7 linked regions of the Homo sapiens genome follow. The protein of the gene in region 7 purifies or fractionates together with the protein of the main gene of each other region. This does not show direct contact. Each region holds a gene or a part of one and is shown on either strand. Other genes may lie near its edges.

Evidence for each region.
Region 1: the proteins of TBC1D15 (region 7) and STX12 purify together in Homo sapiens (affinity purification with mass spectrometry; 4 studies listed by BioGRID and IntAct, with this or other methods). This does not show direct contact.
Region 2: the proteins of TBC1D15 (region 7) and MYO9A purify together in Homo sapiens (co-immunoprecipitation; 2 studies listed by BioGRID and IntAct, with this or other methods). This does not show direct contact.
Region 3: the proteins of TBC1D15 (region 7) and DNM1 purify together in Homo sapiens (affinity purification with mass spectrometry; 2 studies listed by BioGRID and IntAct, with this or other methods). This does not show direct contact.
Region 4: the proteins of TBC1D15 (region 7) and MTCH1 purify together in Homo sapiens (co-immunoprecipitation; one large-scale study listed by IntAct). This does not show direct contact.
Region 5: the proteins of TBC1D15 (region 7) and DNM3 purify together in Homo sapiens (affinity purification with mass spectrometry; one large-scale study listed by BioGRID and IntAct). This does not show direct contact.
Region 6: the proteins of TBC1D15 (region 7) and THEM6 purify together in Homo sapiens (co-immunoprecipitation; 2 studies listed by BioGRID and IntAct, with this or other methods). This does not show direct contact.

Annotation. Positions count from the first base shown.
Region 1 is NC_000001.11:27,800,719-27,804,218, reverse strand, and holds part of STX12 (syntaxin-12), read right to left. Parts: intron 2,542-3,500; coding exon 2,404-2,541; intron 1-2,403. UniProt on the Homo sapiens protein: SNARE promoting fusion of transport vesicles with target membranes. Together with SNARE STX6, promotes movement of vesicles from endosomes to the cell membrane, and may therefore function in the endocytic recycling pathway.
Region 2 is NC_000015.10:71,898,151-71,901,650, forward strand, and holds part of MYO9A (unconventional myosin-IXa), read right to left. Parts: intron 3,191-3,500; coding exon 3,041-3,190; intron 1,857-3,040; coding exon 1,537-1,856; intron 883-1,536; coding exon 1-882. UniProt on the Homo sapiens protein: Myosins are actin-based motor molecules with ATPase activity. Unconventional myosins serve in intracellular movements. Regulates Rho by stimulating it's GTPase activity in neurons.
Region 3 is NC_000009.12:128,220,379-128,223,878, reverse strand, and holds part of DNM1 (dynamin-1), read right to left. Parts: intron 1,683-3,500; coding exon 1,540-1,682; intron 1,419-1,539; coding exon 1,283-1,418; intron 1,087-1,282; coding exon 1,019-1,086; intron 1-1,018. UniProt on the Homo sapiens protein: Catalyzes the hydrolysis of GTP and utilizes this energy to mediate vesicle scission and participates in many forms of endocytosis, such as clathrin-mediated endocytosis or synaptic vesicle endocytosis as well as rapid endocytosis (RE).
Region 4 is NC_000006.12:36,969,197-36,972,696, forward strand, and holds part of MTCH1 (mitochondrial carrier homolog 1), read right to left. Parts: coding exon 3,456-3,500; intron 1,499-3,455; coding exon 1,451-1,498; intron 1,278-1,450; coding exon 1,210-1,277; intron 919-1,209; coding exon 843-918; coding exon of another isoform or gene 657-842; exon of another isoform or gene 1-656.
Region 5 is NC_000001.11:171,844,498-171,847,997, reverse strand, and holds part of DNM3 (dynamin-3), read right to left. Parts: intron 1-3,500. UniProt on the Homo sapiens protein: Microtubule-associated force-producing protein involved in producing microtubule bundles and able to bind and hydrolyze GTP. Most probably involved in vesicular trafficking processes, in particular endocytosis.
Region 6 is NC_000008.11:142,730,223-142,733,722, reverse strand, and holds part of THEM6 (protein THEM6), read right to left. Parts: intron 1-3,500.
Region 7 is NC_000012.12:71,842,759-71,846,258, reverse strand, and holds part of TBC1D15 (TBC1 domain family member 15), read right to left. Parts: intron 1-3,500. UniProt on the Homo sapiens protein: Acts as a GTPase activating protein for RAB7A. Does not act on RAB4, RAB5 or RAB6.

The sequences.
Region 1 (3,500 bases), on a different chromosome or scaffold from region 7:
CCTGACCTCAGGTGATCCACCCGCCTCGGCCTCCCAAAGTGCTGGGATTACAGGCATGAGCCACTGCGCCCGGCCACAGAATTTAATGATTTTTAAGAGTGTAATGGGTTCCTGAGATTAAAAAGTTTGACAACTTTTGTTCTATTGAGTTGTATCTTTCTTTTTCATATTGATTCATGGGAATTCTGGGGTTTTTTTTGTTTTGTTTTTTGTTTTTTGAGATACAATCTTGTTGTGTCGCCCAGGCTGGAGCACAGGGGCACAATCTCAGCTCACTGCAACCTCTGTCTCCCTGGTTCAAGCGATTCTCCTGCCTCAGCCTCCAGAGTAGCTGGGATTACAGGCACGCGCTACCACGCCCAGCTAATTTTGTATTTTTAGTAGAGACAGGGTTTCACCATGTTGGCCAGGCTGGTCTTGAACTCCTGACCTCGTGATCTGCCCACCTTGGCCTCCCAAAGTGCTGGGATTACAGGTGTGAGCCACCACGCCTGGCCGAATTCTTTATATATTCTAAATGCTAGTCCTTTGCTATTAAATATATATAGCAATGTCTTCTCCCTGTGACTAGTCTTTTCACATCTTTACCACTTTTTTTGTTCTTCATTTCTTTCTGCTTTTCAGACTTTCCATCTGAGATCACTTTCCTTCCATCTGAAATACATTATTTAGAATTTCCTTCAATAAGATGTGCTGACAGAAAACTCTCTTTTGATTGAAAATGTCTTTAATTAGCCCTCATTCTGACATATATTTTCACTGGGTTTAGAATCCTAGGTAGGCAGTTATTGTCCTTCATCAACATTCAAGATAGCACTCTACTGGCTTCCACTGTTGTTGAGAAGTCAACTGTCAATCTAACTATTGTATCTTTGAAGGTATTCTAATGTTTCTCTAGCTATCTTTATGATTTTTCTCTTTGTCTCTGGTCTGAAGTTTGTCTTTGATGTATCTAGATTAGAGATTTTATTTATCCTGCTTGGGATTTGTTAGGCTTCTTGAAACTGCAGGCTAGTGTTTTTAATCAGTTCTAGAATATTATCACTCATTATTTCTTCAAATATCACCTCTGTTCTATGTTTGCCCTATTCTCACTCTATAACTCCAGTTAAAACTACGTTAGATCTTTTCTCTCCATTCTCCATTTTTCATAATCTTTCTTCCGTATTTAACCTCTTAACCCCCTATGCTACATGCTGGATAATATATTCTAACCAATTTTTTAGTTAAACCACCCATCCACTAAGTTTTTAAATTTCTATATTATATCTTTCCATTTTAGAAATTCTTTTGACACTTTTTCAAATCTTTGTGTAGTTTCCTGCAGAGGTTTTCAGCCTTTTATGTCTTTAAACACAATAAGTATAGTTGTCTTATAATTCTAATATAAAAAGTCTTTGTAGGTATATTTCACTTCATTGTTGTTTCTACTAATTCTTGTTCAGAGTAATTTGTTTCTTTGCACACATGGTTATTTTTAGTGACTGGTACTTACTGCCCTAGAAAAATTATTTGAGAGTATTATTTCAGGGCTAGGATAAAGGTGTCTTTCTACAGAAGGAATTTGTGTTTGCTTCTATCCCACACATAGGTGGCTCTCCCAGTCCAGGACCACTGAACCATTCAGGTAGGATGAATTTGAGCAGAAAATCTGCCTGAAGAAGGTTACTTTGTGGTAACCTTGTCTAGATTTCTCCTCCCTCCTGCCCTCCTCCTCCATCTGCTCAGTTCAGTGCTAATGCAATCTTTCTGTAATCTGCCGGGGGATAGAAGAGCTTACTTTTGACTTAATGTTCTAAGGATATAGTCTCTTAGGGCCCAGTTTAATTTGAGTTGTACCTTCTTTTATATTCTCTCTCTTGCATGGACCTTTGGCTTTGACTTTTATCCTCCCCATGCCATGAGGATATCAAAACTGAAGTTCAAGTTTGCCTTCAGTAAAGACATTCAATGCAAAAGCAGTTTCAGTATTCTGCTGACCTCTCAGGCTTTACCTTAATATTTTCATAATCTTTGATACTTTTGAGAAGTTGGATTTTTAAAATCCAGTATTTGAAAATCCTTTTCAAAAACAGAGGGCTAGTCCAAATAAACTAGCCTGTTATATTCCAGGAAACAGATTCATTATTTTTATTTTCAAGTTTTTAACGTTAAAACCAATATATCAAAATGAAAAAGAAAATTAGACATAGTTCTTCCTCCTATATCTCTTAACCTTCATTCAGATTCCTTTCTAGGCTTTGATCACATGCATATATGTTTTTTACATAGGTTACACCAACCTGCCATTTTCACAGCAGCTAACTTACATGTTTATTGGTCAAAGAGAAAAAGAAAAAAACCCACAAACTTGGAAAAGAACATTCTGATATTGCAAAGGTCTTCTTTTGGGAATCAACTTACAGAAAGACGAGATCCAGCTCTTGCTCTGGCAATACTCTCCTTTTCCTTTTCAGATACCCTTCTCTGCACAGCCTGGAAATTGTTTAAGGCTGCAGAGAAGTCATTCATGAGGCGTTCCTTCTGAAGTCTCTGCTGGCGCTAAGGAAATCAAGCAAGAACTTGAGATTTCATATTAACCCAGAATCATTTGGTTTTAATTTCCCTTAAAAGTAAAATTATACCCCTTAAAGATTTCCAACTAGGAAAATTATTATGAAATAGTCTCTTCTTTAAATTAATAAATTTGCTCTTTGCTAGCTCAAGTCCCTGGTTAATACTATAGACCAAGTCAGAATTTTTCTTCTTTCATTCTGACAAACCTGGAACTGGGTTGCATTTAACTTCTTCTTCTTTTTTTTTTTTTCTTTTTATTGAGACGGAGTCTTGCTCTGTCGCCCAGGCTGGAGCGCAGTGGCATGATCTCAGCTCACTGCCAACCTCTGCCGCCCGTGTTCAAGCGATTCTTGTGCCTCAGCCTCCTGAGGAGCTGGGATTACAGGCACCCACCACCATACCTGGCTAATTTTTTATTGTATTTTTAGTACAGATGGGGTTTCGCCATGTTGGCCGGGCTATTGTAGAACTCCTCACCTCAGGTGATCTGCCCGCCTCGGCCTCCCAAAGTGCTGGGATTACAGGCGTGAGTCACTGTGCCCAGCCTGTATTTAACTTCTAAAGTAATCTCCAAAGAACTGCAATTCAGAATTTTGGTGCCCTGGAGAATATAAAAGAGAATAAATACCTCTGGACTCCAGTTGAATCCAAACAGAGATGGGTTTTAGCTAAAATGTTAAAACCCTATTCATCTATATTGAATTCACAGCTTCCCTGTAAACTATAGAAGCATTTCACAGGCTTTTAGTGGTTTAAAATCTTTGAGACTTGGTAAGTACTTCATTTATCTACAGACTACCTCTACTAAGCTTGTTACTTCTATGTCTCAAAAAACATATGCTGAGGTTGAGCACAGTGGCTTATGCCTATAGTCCTAGTATTTTGGGAGGCTGAGGCAGGAGGATCACTTGAGCCTAGGAGTTCAAGACCAGCCTGAGCAACAT
Region 2 (3,500 bases), on a different chromosome or scaffold from region 7:
GCTGTGTCTTCATTTTCCAATAGTTTGTTTCTTTGGATACTTGTGTCTAGTTGGGAATTTGTTTTCAGTGGGTCTTGTTGGGGGATATAAAAAAAAGTAGGTAGACTATTTGAAATGAAGGAGTCTTTCAGCTGTGGTTTACAGGTAATAGACTCAGAACTGCAGACCACCATTTCCTTCATAGTTCCATCCTTCAAATGCTCTGCACTGCTAGTCTCATTTGAGGCACTGAGGGCATTGTCCCGTGAATCAAATTTTGGACTGCTGGATATCTTAGGTGATGGAAACTGCAAGTCTCCTTCATCTGAAATGACAGACTCTAGTTTGCTCTTTTGGCTTTCCTCATAGCTCAGAAGTTCCAAGCTTCCTTGAGAGCTCTCACTATCAGGTGTACCCCGTGGAGACTGAAGGCCTTCAGGCACCAATTCTGTAGACCATCTGCGATCCTCTGAAGGAGAAATACCACCAAGAGAACGAACTTTCAGCAATTCTAAGCTAAATATAGCTTGCTCTAGTTCTCTCATTCTCCTACTTTCTCTCTTAGCCCGGCCTACTTTTTTCTGATGGAGATCCTCCAAGGATCTGGGTCTCTCTCTTACAAGCACATCTTCCTGCAAGTCCACACCACTCTGGCTTTGGGCTCTCTCCTGCTGCTTGTTTGGTGACTCCTTCAAGCAGTCCACTGAACTTTCACGGCTAATTCGATTACTCTCTATTACAGATTTACATTCCTCTATGGCTTTTATTCTGTTGTCAAAAGAACAATCCTCCCATCCTGAAGGGTCTGAACCCTGAATTTCCAGAGATCCATATCCCTTAATATTCACCAATCCAACTTCTGGCTTTGTTTCTCTTAGCCTTTGTTCTTTTAAAGCTTTAAATCTATATAAAAACAGACAAAATGGGTTATAGAAATATCTTAGTTACCACTGAAAATAACATATTTCCTGAGAATTTAAGAAAAAATGCAGAGTTGTAAAATCTTTTTATAATACCTAAGTTCTTCTTAAACTAACTTGAATGCACATTTCATAATTTTCCTATTTCCATGAGTCAGATGATATTTCATTAAGTGTATTACTTCTACCTAGGCATTTCAGTCAAAATGTAAACTAATTCAGAAGTAAAGCTCTCATTTTAATAATGCCTTTATTTTAAAGTAAACCTCAAATTAAAGTGAAATTTTAAGTGTGAAATTAAAGTGAAATTTTAATTTAAGTGTGAAATTAAAGTTTCTGAAAGTAACAACAGTTGAATATTGCCAATTTTATAAGATTCAGCCTAATGTAGAAGTTAATTCTTAGCAGTTATGATCACAGACCATGTAGATTTTCAATCCAATTTAATTCAATAAAACCTTATTTAACTTCCATTATAGACAATACAATGTGGGTTAAAATCGGTATCACAGTATAGTGGAAAAGACAAATTGTATACAACCAATTCTAATACAAATTAGACAAGTGTTAATGCAGAGGTATAAACAAAGTACTTGGGAAGAAGAAAAAAAGCAATTATTATAGTAATAGAGATTACCTTTGTCTTGCTCTGAATCCTCTACATGTTGATTGCAAAAGGATAATTTTTTTCCTTTGTTCTTGGTACCTTTTACTTTCCCTGTAGGCTTTCCATCTTGCTTGTATGCAAATAGCAGCCATGTGCCTGCGCCTATAGTAATCTCTCCATTTCTGCTGGATAACGATGGCTGCAGCCCGTAACTCCAAGTACCGCTGCCTCTCTAAGTGAGCACGCCAGGAAGCTTGGAGAAGAGCAGCTGCACTAGCCATAACAAAAGCATCCTTCTGCACAGCTGCATCTCTGACTTGCTTCTGATTTAGGTAATTCCTCCAGAATCTCTATGGGGAAGACAAAATAACAGAAACTGGTTGTCATATCTTACACTGCATTTTCACAGGAAAAAAAGAGAATAAATTTCTTATGTCATAATTACAGGTTAAGTGGCTATGCAGCTAAATTCTTGGTGATTAAAAATAAGTTTTCTGGCCAGGTGCGGTGGCTCATGCCTGTAATCCCAGCACTTTTGGAGGCTAAGGCAGGCAGATCATGAGGTCAGGAGATAGAGACCAACCTGGCTAACATGGTGAAACCCCGTCTCTACTAAAAATACAAAAAAAATTAGCTGGGCGTGGTGGTGGGTGCCTATAGTCCCAGCTACTCAGGAGGCTGAGGCAGGAGAATGGCGTGAACCTGGGAGCTGGAGCTTGCAGTGAGCAGAATTCACGCCACTGCACTCCAGCCTGGGTGACAGAGTGAGACTCTGTCTCAAAAAAATAAAAATAAAAAAACTAGTTTTCTACAAAAGCAGAAAGTGTACCTGAAAAAGATAAATAGAAAAAAGTTTTCTCTTCCAGATATGTTTGGCTAAAACAGCTATTTTAAATAATATAACCTTGAAGAAGTTAATTACAGAACCTAATTTAAAATTTTTGGATGATTTCATGTCCTTCAAATTATTAGTAACTTTAACATATTATATTCTTTTGTTACAATTTTCCTAAATAACACTAATGGGTTTAAGGTAATCCTGACACACATTCCAAAGATGAAGATACTAAAGATTTTCTTGCACAAATGGAAAAGATCTTATGGAAATGATATAAATCAATGAGGGAGTTAATAAAACAAATAAAATGTAAAATAAGGTACCTATCATCCAAAATGAGTGTCTAAAACCAACGGTATATATACAACTCTCAAACATCACTCCAAAAACTATTAAATAAAAACAACTATGTCAACAAATATTAGGTAACTCCTTAGCCCCTACACAGATCTCACAAGACATTATAACTACAAATTCAATTTAATTTAAATTCAATGGAATCAATATTTATTAATAGTCTATTATATGCCAGATAATCTGTTGGGTGTTATGAGCACTTCAAAATTGGGTACGACATATTCTCATTTCTGAAGTTCACATTATTACTGAAAATGTTTTACAGTAAAAAGGTTCTGGTTACTAAACAAAGGCCAAATAAACTAGTCAATCTCATGCAAAGAATCCTTTGCTTCTCACCTGGATAATAACAGATGCTTGTCTCAGATGGAGGAAATGCTGCCTACACAGCAAGACCCTGAACCATCGCTGCAACAATATGATTCTGCGGAGCACCTCTTGGTGAAGCAGATCTTGTAAGTGCTGTCGTTCCTGCTCCTTTAGAAAGACCTACCAAAAGGAAGAAAGATGAGGAATGCAGCTTAAGAAGAAATGAGAAATTTATTTCATGAATCATCCTTTCTGTGATAAGCTTTTAGAGAAGAACAAACACAGTGGCAGGCATGTAAATGAAGTACTGATAAATATTCCTACAGATTTATCCAAAGTAGTCATTCTCAAATTGAAATGGAGATAGTAGAATACGGAAGGTGAGCTGGGTGTGGTGCTACATGCCTATACTCCTAACTACTGAGAAGGCTGAAACAGGAAGTTTGCTGAAGCCCAGGAGTTCCAGTTCTACGGCAAAATAGAGAGACCT
Region 3 (3,500 bases), on a different chromosome or scaffold from region 7:
GACAGGGTTTCACCGTGTTAGCCAGGATGGTCTCGATCTCCTGACCTCATGATCCGCCTGCCTCGGCCTTCCAAAGTGCTGGGATTACAGGCGTGAGCCACCGCGCCCGGCCCTAATGAGGCTCTTTGGGGCAAGACAAGGTGGTTGAGTATCTGATATGTAAGTCCTGCTTCCTCGTAAGGGTCTGTGCATATAGGAAGTTCTATGGCCAGAAATGGCTTGAAAATTGCCAAACGTGGTTCTCCATAAGAGCCTTTCCAGGAATAGAGTGTTTTGTTTTAAGACTAGGAAAGAGATCTTTTTTCTGTGAATTGGCCAGTGCAGTTATCAGGAAGTAAATTCCATGCCAAATCTTGGAAATGAACCTGCATGAGAGCAAGGGGACACTGGGTCTTGTTCACTGCTTGGCATAGGGTAGGTGCTTTAAATTTTCCGGCCCAGTGGATTTGTTGGATGAACACAGCATAGATCTGGGTCCCTGAAGGGGATCTAAGCTTTTAAGGAACAGATTCCACCTCCCAATCCTGTTTCCTACTCCACGGGTTGCCTAGAAGGAGGGCGGTGGGGTGGAATGGGACTGACTCTGGGCTACTGTGAATACAGGAGGGTGTGGAGGATTGCAAAGTCCCCGGCCGTCATAAAAGGACACAGCCTCATACTTAGATGCTCCACCCCAGGCCCTCGTAGTGGTTTGGACATCTTTGTCCGGTTACCTGGGTGGCACTGGGGGAGCTATCTCACCCTGGGGATGGGCCCAGCCCCAGAGGGTGTTTCCCCGGCCACCTGCGCCCTGGGCTGTGCCCAGTTGGCCCAGCAAGTTGCAGTAGGCGGGGTGGCCCGGGTCCACCTCCCCAAGCTGGAGCCTGTCATGCAGGGAGCCAGAAAGTTGGGGTCGAGAGGACTGGGGAACAGAGCTTTCAGTCCTTCCTGAGGGAGGCCCACTTCATCACTCCCTGTGCCTCTGTCCCAGACCCCCTACTTCTGGGGTTCAGCCACCCTCCCAGGCCCCAATACGTGCCTAATGCCATGGATATTCTTGATAGCATAGCTGATCTCCCTTCGGAGTTCCTTCTCATCAAACTCCATCTGTGTAGAAAAGCAGAGAAAAGCCTGGTCAGGGCCTGTCCTACTACCTGGGAGGTCAAGACAGGGCCCACCCCACACCTAGGGCTGGGCATCAGGGCCTGTGGGGTGGGGGCCAGCAAAAACACACGCAGAGAGAGTCCTGAGTGAGGGTGGGGGGAGTCCTGAGCCATCCTGTCCCCAGGGCTGCCTGACCTACCTTGACCAGCTCGAAAGGGAAGCGCTCGTGGAAGATTCGGTTAATGCGGGCTCCCCCTGACAGTTCGTAGGTGTCGATCTGATCTCCTGAGCCCTCAATGCGCTTCTCAAAGTCTACGGCGAACTGCTGGACCATCCTGGTGGGAGAGTGGTGTGGCCTGAGGGGGCAGGAGCAGCCCAGCAAAGGGAACCCTGGGAGAGCCCCACGCTGAGAGGCTGGGGGCGGGGATTCAGTGATAGGAGCTGGGGGAGCCTCACTGCAGCAGGGCCTTGGTCTTGCGAGCTGGGTCATCAGGGCGGAAGTTCTTGTATTCCTCCACCTCCTTCTCAATGGACAGTAGCTGGCTCTGCAGCTTGTTCCGCAGCCCCGGCAGTGTGTCCCGGATGTGGTTCGTCAGTTGCTGGGGGTAAGGGTGAGGAAAGGGTTGAGGACAGATGGTCACAGGGCCAGGAAGGGACTTGGATGCCAGGGGACTGTGTGAACGTGGTGAGGTGGAGAGCTATGGAGGGCAGCCCTGCCACTGCTGCCCGGGCCACTAGCAAGAAAACTGGTTCATAGAAGGAGCTTGCAGAGATGTATTAGTTGAATTAATGAGTGCATAATTTTCAATAAAGCCAGAAATCTGGATTTGTATTTGGAATTTCCTGATTTTTGGCCAATTTAATCTTTTTATTTTTATTTATTATTATTATTTTTTTGAGACGGAGTTTCACTCGTCACCCAGGCTGGAGTGCAATGGCGTGATCTCAGCTCACTGCAACCTGCGATCTCTGCCTCCCAGTTTCAAGCAATTCTCCTGCCTCAGCCTCCCAAGTAACTGGGACTACAGGCGTGCACCACCATGCCCAGCTAATTTTTTGTATTTTTAGTACAGGTTTTCGCCTTGTTGGCCAGGCTGGTGTCGAACTTTTGGCCTCAAGTGATCCACCCGCCTCAGCCTCCCAAAGTGGTGGGATTACAGGCATGAACCACCATACCATCCCAATTTAATATTTTTAGACGTGCGTCTGAGGCAGGGGTGGCCAGAGGGCTGCCCCTTGGACCCTCTGGGTTTAAAGCCTCCTTTAAGGTCATTCTCAAGTTCTAGCACTCATGCTCACTAGGTGCCCCCACACAGTATCTCCCTGAACCTTTACAACAATCCTATGAAACAGGTCTGATCACCATTGTCTCCATTTTACAGATGCAGAAATAGAGGCTCAGAGGCCAGGCACGATTATGGCTCATGCCTGTTATCCCAGCACTTTGGGAGGCCAAGGCGGGCAGATCACCTGATGTCAGGAGTACGAGACCAGCCTGGCTAACATGGTGAAACCCCGTCTCTACTAAAAATACAAAAATTAGCCAGGCGTGGTGGTGTGTGCCTGTAATCCCAGCTACCTGGGAGGCTGAGGTAGGAGAATCCCTTGAATCCAGGAGGCAGAGGTTGCAGTGAGCTGAGATCGCACCATTGCACTCCAGCCTGGGTGACAAGAGCAAAACTCCATCTAAGAGAGAAAGAAAGAAAGAGAGAAAGAGAGAAAGAGAGAAAGAAAGAGAGAAAGAGAGAAAGAAAGAGAGAAAGAAAGAAAGAGAAAGAAAGGAAGGAAGGAAGGAAGGAAGGGAAAGAAAGAAAGAAAGAGAAAGAAAGAAAGAAGAAAGGAAAGAAAGAAAGAAAAGAAAAGAAAGAAAGAAAGAAAGAAAGAAAGAAAGAAAGAAAGAAAGAAAGAAAACAAATAAAGAAAAAAGAAATAGAGGCTCAGAGAGCCAGAGAGAGTGTCTCAGAGGGGGAGTGACAAAACTGGGATTGGAAACCAGGTCTTGCCTACACAGACAGACAGTCAGACAGACACACACACACACACACACACACACGCGCGCGCGCGCGCACTTCAGTTCTGGATGCCCCATTCCAGATGGAGAAAAGTCCTGGGGAAGCCCCTGGGATTCCCTGTCAAGGTCTTCAGCCGAGTATACTTGAATCCTGGCCCCCAAACCCAAGCTCTTCCCCATGACACCCTCCACATAGGTCTTGGCCTTCTCTGTGTTGGGGACTTCCAGGGCTTCCCTGGCAGGTCCCAGACAGGGAAAGGTCAGTGAAGCTTTGCTGCTACCTAGCTGTGGGGCTGTGGGCAAGTTGCTTTGCTTTTCTGAGGCTCAGTTTGTCTATCTGCACTACGGAGAGGCTAACCTCTGCTGTTCACTCTCAGAACACACTTAATTTATCCTGTTTTCATGC
Region 4 (3,500 bases), on a different chromosome or scaffold from region 7:
GGAGAGCCCTAGAGAGGAGGCTCATTGCCCCTCTTGCTTCAGAGCCCAAGTGGTCTAGGACTCTTTCAGTGCTCATAGGGAGGACGAGACACACTCACGCTGACCAGGGCCACTGGGAAGAACTGCGGCTCTCCTCCCTGCTTCCCTCCCATCTGTCCTCTTCTCAGCCTCGAGGCCACTCAGAGTTCTGGCTCCCTCCGGGCCACTGCCCCATTTCACTGCGAGGCAAATCAAGGCCAGGAAAAGGCAAGGTTCTGCCCTCGGCCAAAGCCTGGACCCCTGACTGCTGGGCCCAAGAGCTCCAGCTACGGAGAGGTAGCTTCGGTACAGAACACGAGAACCCAAGGTTGGTACTGCTGCCAGTTCCCCACGTGGCCCAGCCCCACCCACAGGCTCTCCTGGGCCCAGGAATGTCCTGCAGGAGGGAGGAGTCGGTTTCCAATGCCAGCCGCCCTAACAACCCAGGAACTCAGCTCAACTGGTTACAGACCTCGAATTTTCAGCCCATGTTACTTGAAGGAGAAGCAGTTCTTGGGCTTTACCACCTGCCACCTGGGCCAGAGTTCTCTTATCCTTATCCTAAGAGTCTTTAAGACTCAAAGAAGAAAAGGTCTTGTCTGATGTATAATCTTAAAATAAACCCACACTTAGCCACCTCAAATCCTTTCTGAAATTATGTAAGATGAAAACTTAAATGCCTTATAGATACCAAGTATCTCCTCACAATATTGAATTCCATGAAACCACTTATCTTTGCATGCAATGAAGCATCCACAAAACCATTTCAGCTGAAGGATGTAGCAAAGAACAGGAAAGGCCTCCGCCGTCCAGTGCTTGCTCACCTGCACACTCAGGTACTTCCAGCAGTGAATCCAGGATTTGAACACTGGGGAGTAAGGGGGGAGCCCAGCTTGCAGCCTGCCGGAGAAGGAGAGTGTAGATGCAGAGAACAGTGGAAGACAGCCAGCCACGGGAAAGCCACTTCAAGAAGGAATGCCTTCAGGCTACCACCCATCCACACCCTGACCCCTGACACCACAGTTTACCCCAGGGGGTGCTGGGAAATCCCAGCGGAAGCCAGGGTGCCTGGCAGGCCAAGCCTACACACAGAGCAGGTGGGAGGGGGCAGAGTGCTGGAAGGGCTCGGTGGGTCTCCCCCACCCCACAGCCTTGGTAGGTAGAGTGGCAAGTAGAGGGGCGCACACCTACCCGCAGTTGTTCACAGCCATGAGGTCGCCAACTAGCAGGAAGGGGTAGGTCAGCATGCTCACTGCAATCTGAAACCCAGAGAGGCCTGAGTGCCAGTGACCCACCCCGGCCCAGGGAGCAGGGACACACCACGCCAACACCCTGTACCAAGACCTGCCTCCAGCCATTACCAGGGTTGGCCTCCTAGGCCCCGCTTGGGTCCGCAAGGCAGTGGGAAGGAAGGACAGCTGGCACAACTTACCCCCATCACGAACTTGGTATAGCTCCGGATGGCCAGGGCCTGGCTGAACTGAGGAGACAGAAGGGAAGAGTGGTTTGCCACAGGCACCTCAGGATGCAGACTTCAGCAACACATGCCCTCACCCCACCCTCTGTGCTGAGCTCCTCACAAGCACGCTGCACATGCCTTTCCTGTCAGCCCTCACAGTCACTGCCCAGAGAAGGCCTGGGGGGCAGAAACGGGGTAAGTGGACTGAAGGGAGTCCCGAGAAGGAGACCCGGTAAGAGGGATCAGCTGCCGCTGCCTGTGCAACCCACCGGACTGTGAGCCTCAAGGGCTGAGCCCGTGTCTGCCTGATCAACATCCAGGGCTTGGCACGCAGTCAGTGCTAAGACAGACATGCACCCTGAAACCCAAAGACGAATCCTGGCCTGTGGGGTGAGGTGAGGGCAAGTCCAGGCTTATCGCCACCTCCACCTCAGCAAGCTTTTCCCCCTTCAGACCCCAACTCCTCAAATCCTGCTTTGCTGAAGCAAACAGCTCCTAGTGAGGAAAGGTGACTCCCCCACCCTCAGCTTCCTGTGGAGCGGCCATCCCACCAGATCGATGGCCTGGGTTCTTGGTCAGAGATTTGCTCAGATGTCTGCTTGAGTGGCTTTGACAGCCCGGCAGCCTCACCTCGGCCTTTAAGCCACATACAGAAAAGCACTCGAAAAACACTTTAGACAAATCTGTTGACTGCTGTTGTTGCTGATGTAAGCACGGCAGCCTCTGGTCAGACAGCTGCCCACCTAGATGAGAAACCACTTAGCGGTGCACTCCTGGCCACCCTTGCTCTGTATGTGACAGCAGCAGCTTACCCACCCACAAGGCCCCCCGAGAAGGGGCAGAACTGCAGGAATGTACCACTGTGATTGCAGATGGGGTGGGTCTCTATGGAGCCACTTTAATTTGCTTACATCGAAAGGCCAGTGAAGACTCACCTGCCCAGGTCAAGTGGCCAGTCTCCCTGCAAGCAGAGGCTCCCATCTGGGATGGGGCACTCCTCACCACACAGAACAGACATGTACCACACACACACACATGCTGAACATGACCCCCTTCCCACCCAGGTGATTCTGGCAGACACGTCCCCAGGCCCTCCTAGCCTCCTGGGAGGGAAAGCCACTTCAAGAAGGAATGCCATCCTTCTTGAAGGTGATCCCCACTGTGAGAATGTCTGGACACTGCAATTCCCAGCCATCGCTGCTCCCTACCTCTTATCTTGGTTCAGGCAGAACCAGTCAACCCCTCAGGTACCTGGATGGCCTTCCTCAACAAGTGCTGTGTAGAAGGACCAGGCCTTCCTATGCCTGACCCGACCTGCTGAAAGGTCTATGTATACTAGGCTGTGTAGACCACAGCTAACAAAATAGGAGGGTGTATCGGACTGTACACTTCCTAGCAGATCTGAAAAAACTCAGAGGAATGCACCCTTGGCCTGGCCAGGGATCTAATTCCAGCCCTGTCAGTTCCAGCTGAGTGACTCTGGAGAGCCCAGAGCCTCTCCAGAATTTGTGATCTCTGGGTCTCGATTTCTGTATTGGTAAACGAACATTATACCTGCCCTGTTCCCTTCACAACTAGGATGCCGTCAGATCAAAGGCCATAACGTTCACAAAAGGGTTTTAAAAAGCAAAAGACGTGACACAAAGGTCAAGAGGTGATCACTATTAGCTGGTCTATCTTCTGACTTCCTGAGCCCTAGTTGGGTCACTGCCTCGGAGCAGCCTTAGATAAGCTGGGGTCTGTTTCTAAGGCGCCCAGGGACAAGCATTCCATTAATTCCTCCCAGGTCTGGGTACTAATCTGGAATCTCGCCTCTTGAGGCCGTTCTCCCCTTAGACAAAGATGACTCCAGGGATAATGAGAGGTCCTCTCTCACCCTCCCGGCCTGATGCTGAGAATCCCAGAATCCTTGAGTTTGTCCCAGACCCTGGGCATCAGCAGCACACGGAAAGAAGGACAAGTCCTTGTTCCAACCAACCTGGGAACCTGGATTCTGGTCGTTTCCCAGCCCCCCTGGGGTGTC
Region 5 (3,500 bases), on a different chromosome or scaffold from region 7:
ATAATAATGTCATCAAATGCCAGTCTTGCTACTATTAAAGGAAGAAAAGCTAAGCTACCTATGATCACACACACACACACACACACACACACACACACACAGAGAGAGAGAGAGAGAGTAATTAATATGGTATTAATGAACCCTCTAATTTGTTGGAAATGATTTTTAATTCATGAAATGCAAATCATTTAGTGTCAACTCCTTTACCCTCCTCCCATTCTAAACAATTCATTCCATTTTCAGGTTTGCCTTTAGGACATTTTCCCTGACATTTGTGTCTTTGACTTATTCTACTCCTTTAACTAAATGACTTATTCTTTAAAAGGAAAATAGAATTCACCTCCCTTAAGTATTAGTGCCTTGGAAGTCCTTATAAAATACTTGATCTGATCCATCCCACTCTCAATTAACCTTCACTGCATCCAGTTATATTTTTAATCTCTCCAATCTCTTTTTTTTTCCTTGCTGCTCTTCTCTAGGGCCCTCTCCAATATACAGTATCTCTTTGTGATAAAGTCACAGTCTAAATTCAATGCCTTGTTGTCAACTCAGAAACTGAGACACAGATCACCACCTTCCTGCTTTGACATAGATACTTCAGTACATGCAGGCTTGAGCTAAAATGATATGGGCTGCCAGATGACACTGGAAATGCATATATTGTCTACTTTCCACTTATATTCAGTTCAATTTCAGAACTGTAGTTTTTCAGGGATTTTTGTAAAAATAAATTGACATACTATAATTTTTTATCCTGATTAGTTTGCATTATATCTGACTACCTTCATTTTACATGTGCATTTGAAAGTTGTCTCATACTTTATCCTGTCAGTTCTCTTTTTATACATACATAAGCTTCTATGTATTCATATTTTCTTGTATATTCTTACCCAGTAAACTTAGAACTCAATAAATACATGTTCATTGGTTTTATGTGTCCATATTTCTCAAGAGTTCCAGGAGGAGTCATACTGAATCCCAGCTTGGCTGCTTGCTAGCTATACGATCCTGGGTGAATGACTTGTCTCTCCAACCCTGAATTTTCTCCCCTATTGACATGGGGATATGGAAACAGGTAAGGAATAGAAGGTATGAAAAGTATCTAGCAGAATCCATGTCTGCTACCCCATAATGGCTAAGCAAATGTTGGCCCCTTTTTTCCGTCTACTTTATAAAATGTATTTAGTATGACATAATCCATAAGAATTTTTAAATCAATGCAGAGAGTGTGAGAAACTGCAATGCAAACTTGGACTAGGATAAATTGCAAAACTTTGGCCATGCAGAAAATTAAATTGGATCATTCTATATAGCATATGAGCTTGGGACTCTCTTGACTTGGCTCTGGTAGCAGAGGAAAAAAATAATCTATTTCTTTCTAGATACTTGAAGTCCCTCTAAAATAAATGACAATAATAAATAAAACTTCATAATTTAACTTACTAGCCATAGCAAAAGGTACTACCTAAGAAGAATACCTAACACTCTAAATGTATACTCCATTGATAGAGAACCCAATAGCCTACCCTCTAATCCAGCTAAACATTAAGTTTCCATTCCTCCAAGGTTCTGGGTGACTGCCCAACTTCATTCTTAAAGAAGTTAAATCAAGTGCATTTTTGGATAACTGTTAATCATAAGTAAATTCCAAAACAGAGATATCCTATCCAGTCTAGTTATCTTAGTTATATTGCTCTCAGACATTACTAATAAAAAAGGAATTCATTTGATGGTAGTAATTAAGTACCACCAACTGTGAATTTGTGATAACCTAAAAGTATATTATATAATGTTAATTCAGCAAAAATATTTTTGTGATTTCAAGTTCTACCAATTCATTGTTGCATGAAGAAAAGTTCATGTTTTGACACTTTATTTATAGACCTTGGGAACTATGAAGTATGGTTCTCAATAATTATGACATTTTAATTGTAAGCACCATTTATCTAATAACTATAATACTTAGAAGCAATTTCTTGAAAAATATCAGCATAATCACTTTTTAAAAATATTTTATTTCGTCCCCATTAATCAAAAAACTTTTTCTATTTGTGCAGAATTGAGAGTCTATTTACCACTCAGACTAGAATAAAATAATGTGGACTCTTCTGCCTATATAATTAGCATTGAAAAACTAATATTTCTAACAAGCGTGTCATTTTAAAACATCTGCGTATTAGCAACTAGTACAGTTTTCACTTAACACCTCTATAAATGAGTTATATGCACTCTAAAAACATACTTAAATAAACAATCCAATTACATTTTAAAACTCTCTTCAAGAATGTCTAATATAGCAAAGAAAAATACTTATCTTTTAATAAATGTTGCTTCTGCCTAAGGGGTCACCTCAAATCTTCTGTGAAATGAGGCAAGGTAAACATATGTAAATAAATATTAATAAAATCATTAACATAGTAGCTTCTTGTTTATTATTATTATTTGAGACAGAGTCTTGCTCTATCAGCCATGCCGGAGTGCAGTGGCACAATCATGGCTCACTTACAGCTTTGACCTCCTGGACTCAAGTGATCCTCCTACCTCAGCCTCCCAAGTAGTTGGCACTACAGGCATGCTCCACCATACCTGGCTAATTATTTTTTGGTTTTTCTGTAGAGACAAGATCTCACTACGTTGCCCAGACTGGTCTCAAACTCCTGGGCTCAAGCAATCCTCCCGCCTTGGCCTCCCCAAATACTGGGGTTATAAGCATGAGTACTGTGCCTGGCCAGCTTCTTATTAATATAGGTAACATTTATATAGGGAGCAAGACAGAAGTTAAAAGTATTTATCAGAGGAAATGGTAAACCTCAACATGGAGGATGCAATATGGCACAGAGGTTCTAGAGCATGGGTTATGGTCATCAACACCTCTAGTTGAATCTTAGCTCCACTGTTTTTATATTAAATTAAATTATCCTTGAGTGAGTTACTCAAACTCTCTAAATCTTGATTTCCTCTTCTGTAAAATGGAAATCATAAGAGTACCTACCTCTTTGGGGTTGTATGAGGACTAAATGAGATTATTCATATAAAAGCACCCAGAATAGTACCTACACATAACAGGCACTCTATAAATGTTAACCATTATTATCATCACCACTGCACTATAAATATATGTATACGTATAATGAAAATAGTTGAATAAATTCAATTCTTCTGTATACAAATCAGACCAGTAGGCAGACCCAAGCCAGCTAGTAAACCCCTATGTTCAGATTATAGGTCTCAAATTCTATTCATTAGATCTTAAGCTGCCTCTCATTGCCAGCATATATCTCATCCTGCACCACCAAAAGAACAATCTGGTTACTCATGCTATATCACATTAATATGCAAGTTCATCACTTCAGCAAGAAAATCACAAACAAGTGGTTCATTCATGACTCATTTTATTCATAACAATCTCAAACCTGTCACCCAAAAATCAGCTTTTACAGCAACCGCTAAATGAAGTAAACATATTCACATCCGAATTCATTCATTGGTGTCCAAAAAAA
Region 6 (3,500 bases), on a different chromosome or scaffold from region 7:
TTGACTGAGACATATCTCCGATACTTTTTGGTTCACATGACTCAACAGAAACAGAAGACCAGGGAGCCGTGTAGCTTTGTGCAGTGCCATAGCTCCTCTGAGCCTCAGTTTCCCCATTCCTGACATGACCTCTCAGTGTCAGAGGCGCTGGAACCAGAGCGACTCCATTTTGAGTGAGGGCTGGGAAATGAGGCTGGGGCCTGCTGGGCTGCATCCCCAGAAAGAGGCATTCCGAGCCTCTAGATGTTTAGTTGTAAAGTAGAGGTTCCTCTTCAAAGACTTTCCTACCGATCTAATTAGGAATAAATAGTAACTTCTCTTAGAAGCAAAATTTATTCAAAGACCTGTGCTAACATTATTAAATATCTGCTAGCAGTAATAAAGAAAGCAATGTACTACTTTAGGTTCTTAGCTCCCACAATTTAGCCTAAATATTTGCCCTGGCATGCTTATACTGGTCCAAGCGGGCATTAGGTCATAGCCTGTTCCTCTTCCTTATTTGAAGGTGTTTTTACCTTTCTCAGCATTCCACAAATTACTTCCTTCCTTTGTTCTCCTCTGCCTTTGCCTCTTTTAAAAAGTTGTACGTTGCTAGCCAATCGGGACAGATACAGAATGTGAGGTCCCATCCCAGTCAATGGAAACCAGAGACGGCAATAGGGTGGACGCGTCAGGTTATAAATGACCCTGTTTCCTTTGTTGGGTGAACTCTTGTGGCAAAGCTGATGGCAAGTGTGTCCTTTCTGCAGGAAGTAAAAATGTCCTTGCTGAGTAAATTAAATTTATGTTCAACTGCTGTTTCTTTACGGCACCGGGGAACAAGCATTTCAAACAATTTGGTGGCAATCCGTACAGGGCTACATTCTCCTGCGGGGGCGGTCTCTGTTCCTCTCTCATGAGGGAGCACGCTCCTCTGCCTCACTGCAGTGGCCTCAGGGATGAGAAATTGAGACCCACCTGGTGTGACGAATAAACCCGGACTCTCAGCAATGCAGAAAAAAAAAAAAAAAAGAAACTGGCCAGCAACCTAAGGTAAAGGATGCTCACATACCAGGGCTGCAACTCTGTGCACAGACCAAGGAAGGAGAAGCCACAGAAGCTGGTAAAGTACTTCCTTGGTGGTGAAATTCTGGAGGGCTGAATGTGTGTATGTGTGAATGATCACAGACAACCCTGCTTGCAGTGTGGTTTGTGTGGACGGTGACAAGTCCTCCTGCTGGACAGTGAGTGGGTCCCCTCCATGGTTCCGGTTCTGTAGTGACCTCATATGGCTTAGGGCAGGTCCTGCTGTGGGATTTATACCAGCACGCCTACACTAAGAGGGGCCTAATTCTCCCTTGGGGGGGCGACCAGAGAGGACAACACAAGTGGGAAGTATGCAAGGGACCTTTGGGGGGAAAGGAGGAAACAGGTCAACCTCCCAGGGCAGGCAAGGCAAGACACCCCTGGTTTGAGGGGTTAAGTCTTCCATTAATTTCAGGGGGTTGAACCTCACACAAACCTCCAGTAGTTAAAATATATATATATATATATATATATATATATATATATATATATATATTCAAAACTCCCTTTTCCCCTCTTCACAGGGAAAGAAAAAGGCTAAGCTTCACTCCCGCTGGTTGGTCCCCCAGGGGAAGGGGAAGGAGAGGGGGGAAAACAGCAGCATAGGTGGCTGGCAGAGACAAAGGAAAGACCAGCAGACAGGAAAAAGAACTAGGAGAGGAAGTCAGAAAAAAAGAAAGCAAAAACAGCAAGCACAGCGGCGCCAGGAAGAGAGCAGAGGAGGTGAGAGGGCATAATTCTTGCAATTTGTGGCAGGCATCTGCCAAGCCTCTGGGCTGCCGGGGCCGGACTGCAGCCATGCAAATCCCACCCAGCCCGAGAAACTAAGTGTAGGAAGAAAGGGGAAAAAAAGTAAAAAGGGGAATGGTGGGGGTGGATAGAGAAACTGACGGCAGTGCATGCCCAGGGGCTGGTGCCATTGCCCGGCCCTGCTGCTGCAGGAGCGGGAGAACTCAGGAGGGAAGAAGGAAGCAGGGGATGAAGAGAGTGAAGAGAGAGAAGAGACAGAAAGAGATTAAAATACAGAGGGAAAGAATAAGAGAGAAACTGGAAGAGACAGAAATCAAAGGAAGACATAGAGGGTGAAACTGAGAAAAAGAAATAGCGTAAAAGGCAGGCAGAAAGTTAAGACATGTTGAAGATTGTGAAAGTTGTAAGAAAAGCTATAAAAGGGAATTTATGCAAGAAATAGTGTATAATTTAAAAGTAATTAGGCCTCCTGAATGTAAAATTATTTAAAAAAAAACAGTTTATATACAAGGTATGTCAGAAAAATAAAATAATACTTTTAATAACAGGATTATAAGGAGACATAATATGGATTTTTACCTACATTAAAAGGTTAAAAAATATATTTTGTTTTAAAGGTTTAAGCAAGTTTTAAAATGTTAATTGTAAAGGAAATTCTGTGTGTAAACATATTGGCTAAAGCTAAAGGGGTATCATGCAGTTTTTCTGTGAACTGGATGTTAAAAGCACAATAGATTTTTCTTAAAGCACTAACCCGCTCTTTAACAAAAATTATAAAAGCTTAAAAAGAGTCTATAAAAATCTTACCCTATAGTCAGACATTAAAATTGAATAAATAATGTCTACAAGATTTTATTAAGTTTGGCCGGGCACGGTGGCTCACGCCTGTAATCCCAGCACTTTGGAAGGCTGAGGCGGGCGGATCACGAGGTCAGGAGATCGAGACTATCCTGGCTAACACGGTGAAACCCCATCTCCACTAAAAAATACAAAAAATTAGCTGGGCATGGTGGCGGGCGCCTGTAGTCCCAGCTACTCAGGAGGCTGAGGCAGGAGAATGGCGTGAACCCGGGAGGCGGAGCTTGCGGTGAGCTGAGATTGCGCCACTGCACTCCAGCCTGGGCGACAGAGCAAGACTCTGTCTCAAAAAAAAAAAAAAAAGATTTTATTAAGTTTAACATTAATAGCACATTAGTATAAAGGTAAAATTTAACTTATCTGGTATAAAATCATACAAAAAGCACTGTCAAATATAAAATGGTGTTTAGCTTTCTTAAGGCCTGAAGGTGGCCAGGTAAGTCACAAGGCCCCTCATGTCCAAGGCCACAGTGCACAGGGGCAGTGAAGGCCCCAAGAAGGCCAAGAGCTTAAGAGGAGGCAGGGCCGCAGTGTCCCCTGGGCGGCGCTGAGCAGGAATGGAGCGGGAGGCATCACCATGGGGCCTCAAGCCCCAGGATATGCAGCAAAAATGATATACTTAATTTATCTTCCAGTTTCCCTTCCCTCAGAACTAAAAGACTTTTAGTTCTAGGTACCACCCCTAGAATTTCCAGTACACCAGCACCAGCCTGAAAACCACGTCCTCATCAAAAGACAGAAAGAAAAAACTTGAGCCAGCCTGGGAAGAACCCTATTTTATGCTGTTAACCACTGAGACTGCCATCCGCAGAGCCAAGAAAAAAACG
Region 7 (3,500 bases):
TATAAAACTTCCAATGATGGCCTGCTGAAAGCAACAGAAACTGTATTTTGTTTTTCTCCTCTAGCAAAGGAGCTATGTCAGATATACCTTATTAAAAGAGTTCTGGTGACCACAGCAAACATTTTAGAATAAATTTTCTCACCTCTAATTTAGCAAAAGTTTTAATTAAAAAGCAAAAATGAGGCAGAAAAACAGATAAATTCAACTTTTAGACAGAATGAACTTTTGCACAATCCAACTCAAGAACATCCTTCCTGACACAAAGAGCTGGAAAAAATAAGGAAGTTTCACAATACAGTAGTAATTTTTTATACTGTCCCTACACTTAATACTGAATTTTTACTTATATTATGATTATTATAATTTTTATTTATTTCCAAAAATGGAAGATAAAGGAAAAATTCAACCCAAATATTTTAAATGTAGCAGTAAGTTCAGGGTAAAATTATTGCCCTAAATCATTCTCCAAACTTGGAAACCCATCACCTATCATACACAACATGCATTCTTAACTTTAGCAATTATGTGAACTTACAGGCTAATATAACAACCAAAAAAGGTACAAAAGTTCAGTTTCTTTCAAAACTATTTGGCATACAGATGATAATTTGAGCATATGGTTCCAGAAAGCATCCCCAGGAAATGCGAGACTGAGCATCCTAATGGGCTCCACACCCAAATATCTAAGCACCTACTTGGTATCTCCATTTCAATAAGGCATCTTAATCTCATGTGTTCTATCTAAACCTGCTCTTCTTCTATATTCCCAATTCTGTCAAAGATATCTCATCCACCCACTTATTCTAAATGCTTCTTTCACCATCCAGACCCTATAACCTAAGTCCCTCGAACCTTCTCCTCTGACACTGGCCCCTTATCATTTCTAGCCTAAGTCACTAAAATAACATTCTGATCTCTCTTCTTCTGATCTAGTCACCTTCCAATAATCTGCCTAAGGTGCATAATGTATAACCACTGCCCAAACTAACCTTTACAAAATGTCCATCTGGTTATACCACACAGGGGCTTAAAAATCTTCTGACTTCACCCTTTACCTCTACAGTGAGGCTATACTTCCTGATACTCCCCAACACATAAAACATTTCTGCCTTGGGCCATTGTGAACTCTGTTACCCAAAAGCTTTGTACCTTTTTTCAGGTGTATTCTGTTCCATCTACCTGGAACACCCTTTTATCCTTTCTCTCTGCAAATAACTTCTACTAAATCCTTCAGAAAAGAACATAAGCAATAGCCTGCCCAAATTCTTTGAACTACTCTCCATTCCACTTAATCTGATTTAGAAGTTTCTTTACTCATGCATTCAGCACATTTATGAGCACCAACCACATGCTGGAAATAAAAGGTGTCAGTGGCAAAAACACACACAAGGAAAAGTGTCTGACTAAACTAGCAGTATTATGTAAGCCAGTAAATCAATGTATATAGTAGAGTGTAATAGAGGAATGCAGAGAATCCTGAATGAGGTACCATTTTCAGTTACTTCTTCAATAAATATACAGTAAACGCCTACCATGTGCCAGGTACAGAGCAAGCTACTAGGTGTAAATAAGTAAGATTCAGTCACTGCCTCCACAGCAGTTACAATCTAATGGGATGACAAGAAAACAGACAATTACAACATGTAATTGTACCAACAGGCTGCCACAGCAAGCCCTAATAAATGCTATCTTACCTAGATTTAGGAGGCTCAGGCAGAGTGAGAATCAGGAAAACTTACTTAGAGCGACATATAAACTGAGATCTAAATAATGGCAATTTTAATTAGTAGAGGGTATAGGGAAGCAGAGGATATATGTTCTTAGCAGAGGATATATTTTATACAGAGCAGTAGTTCACTGCATGATTGAAACCCAAATACCAGAGAGTAGAGTCTAAATAGTTTAGAAACAAAAACAGAGACCAGATCAGATCATAAAGGGCTGCATAAGCCATGCTAAAGAATTTAGGAGTTTGAAATTTATCCTGAAGACAGACAAACGCAACTAGAAATTTGCCTTTTCTAAGCCAATAAAGTGGCTGCAGGGCCAAGAACGAACAGCTGCAGTAATCCAGAGAGGGAGAGACTCATGGTTGCTTGAACTAAGGCAATGGTAGTGGGGATGAGGAAAGGCAGATGGCTTAGAAAGATATTTAGAAGATCAAAATGACAAGACTTCATGACTGATTAGATGTGAGAGGTGAAGGGGAGAACAGTCAAGGACAAAACTGTGTAGATGAGGTTATTTACTGAGAGGGAGAACAGAAAGAAGAAAGCTGAGTTTTATTTGGGATGTGTTAATGAGTAATGACTATGGAACTAAAAAAAATGCACAATACAGGTGGTTGTAAGGGCAATACATCACAGATAGTCTGAAGTGAAGAATGTTTTGAGATATAGAGAATGGTACAACTCTCAAGGAAGAGCAACTGGCAGAACTATTATTGCTTCTCAAGGATATTGGTGTGCCAAGCGAAGTCAGATAGGAGACGTGAATAATTTAAGAGTTGGAGGAGATACACAGTCAGCGCTGCAATGAACCATGATCACACCACTGCACTCCAGCCTGGGTGACAGAGCAAGACTGTCCCAAAAATAAATTAACAATAATAATAATAATAATACAAGTCTGTGTTTAACCACCCTTGTATCCAAAGAACTCAGCACATAGGAGGTACTAAAACGTTTGTTGAACTAAAGAATGCCAGAAAAATTTAAAAATAAGACATACTCCTATTATACCCTAGTTAACTACCATGTTAAAAGATCCAGTCTAGGAAAACAAGTCTCCAGGAAAATCTAGATACTAAGAATATTCATCTTTCTAAAGCACAAAAATTTTATAGGACTATGAGCATATTTAAAAAGAATTGGTTAGGGCCAATTTTAAGCTACAAAATAAATTGTTACTAAAAATGACATCACAAATTCTAATTAAGAAAAAAAAACAGCTGATTTCCCTATTGTTTCAAGTAATTTTCTTTTTCATTTTTTGAAACACAGTATGCCCTTCGCCCAGTCTGAACAAGTGGCACAATCTCAGCTCACTGCACTGGTTTCAAGCGATTCTCCTGCCTTAGCCTCCTGAGTACCTGGGACTACAGGCGTGTACCACCATGCCCGGCTTTTGTATTTTTAGTAAAGACAGAGTTTCACCATGCTGGCCAGGCTGGTCTCAAACTCCCGACCTCAAGTAATCCACCCACCTCAGCCTCCCAAAGTGATGATTACAAGCATGAGCCACCGTGCCCGGCCAGTAATTTTCAATAGAAAGAAATTCTAATACACTAACAGGAAAACCTAGAGTGAATGAAGTGTACTACAATAGGATTTTACAACTCTGAAACAAAAGAGCTATTAATGGACCCATTTCTCCCACTCTAATCCCTCCTCATTTTCTTTTTCTTTTCTTTTTTTTTTTTTTTTTTTGAGACAGGGTCTTGGTCTGTCACCCAAGCTGGAGTGCAGTAGCACCATCATAGCTCACTGCAGCCTCCAAGT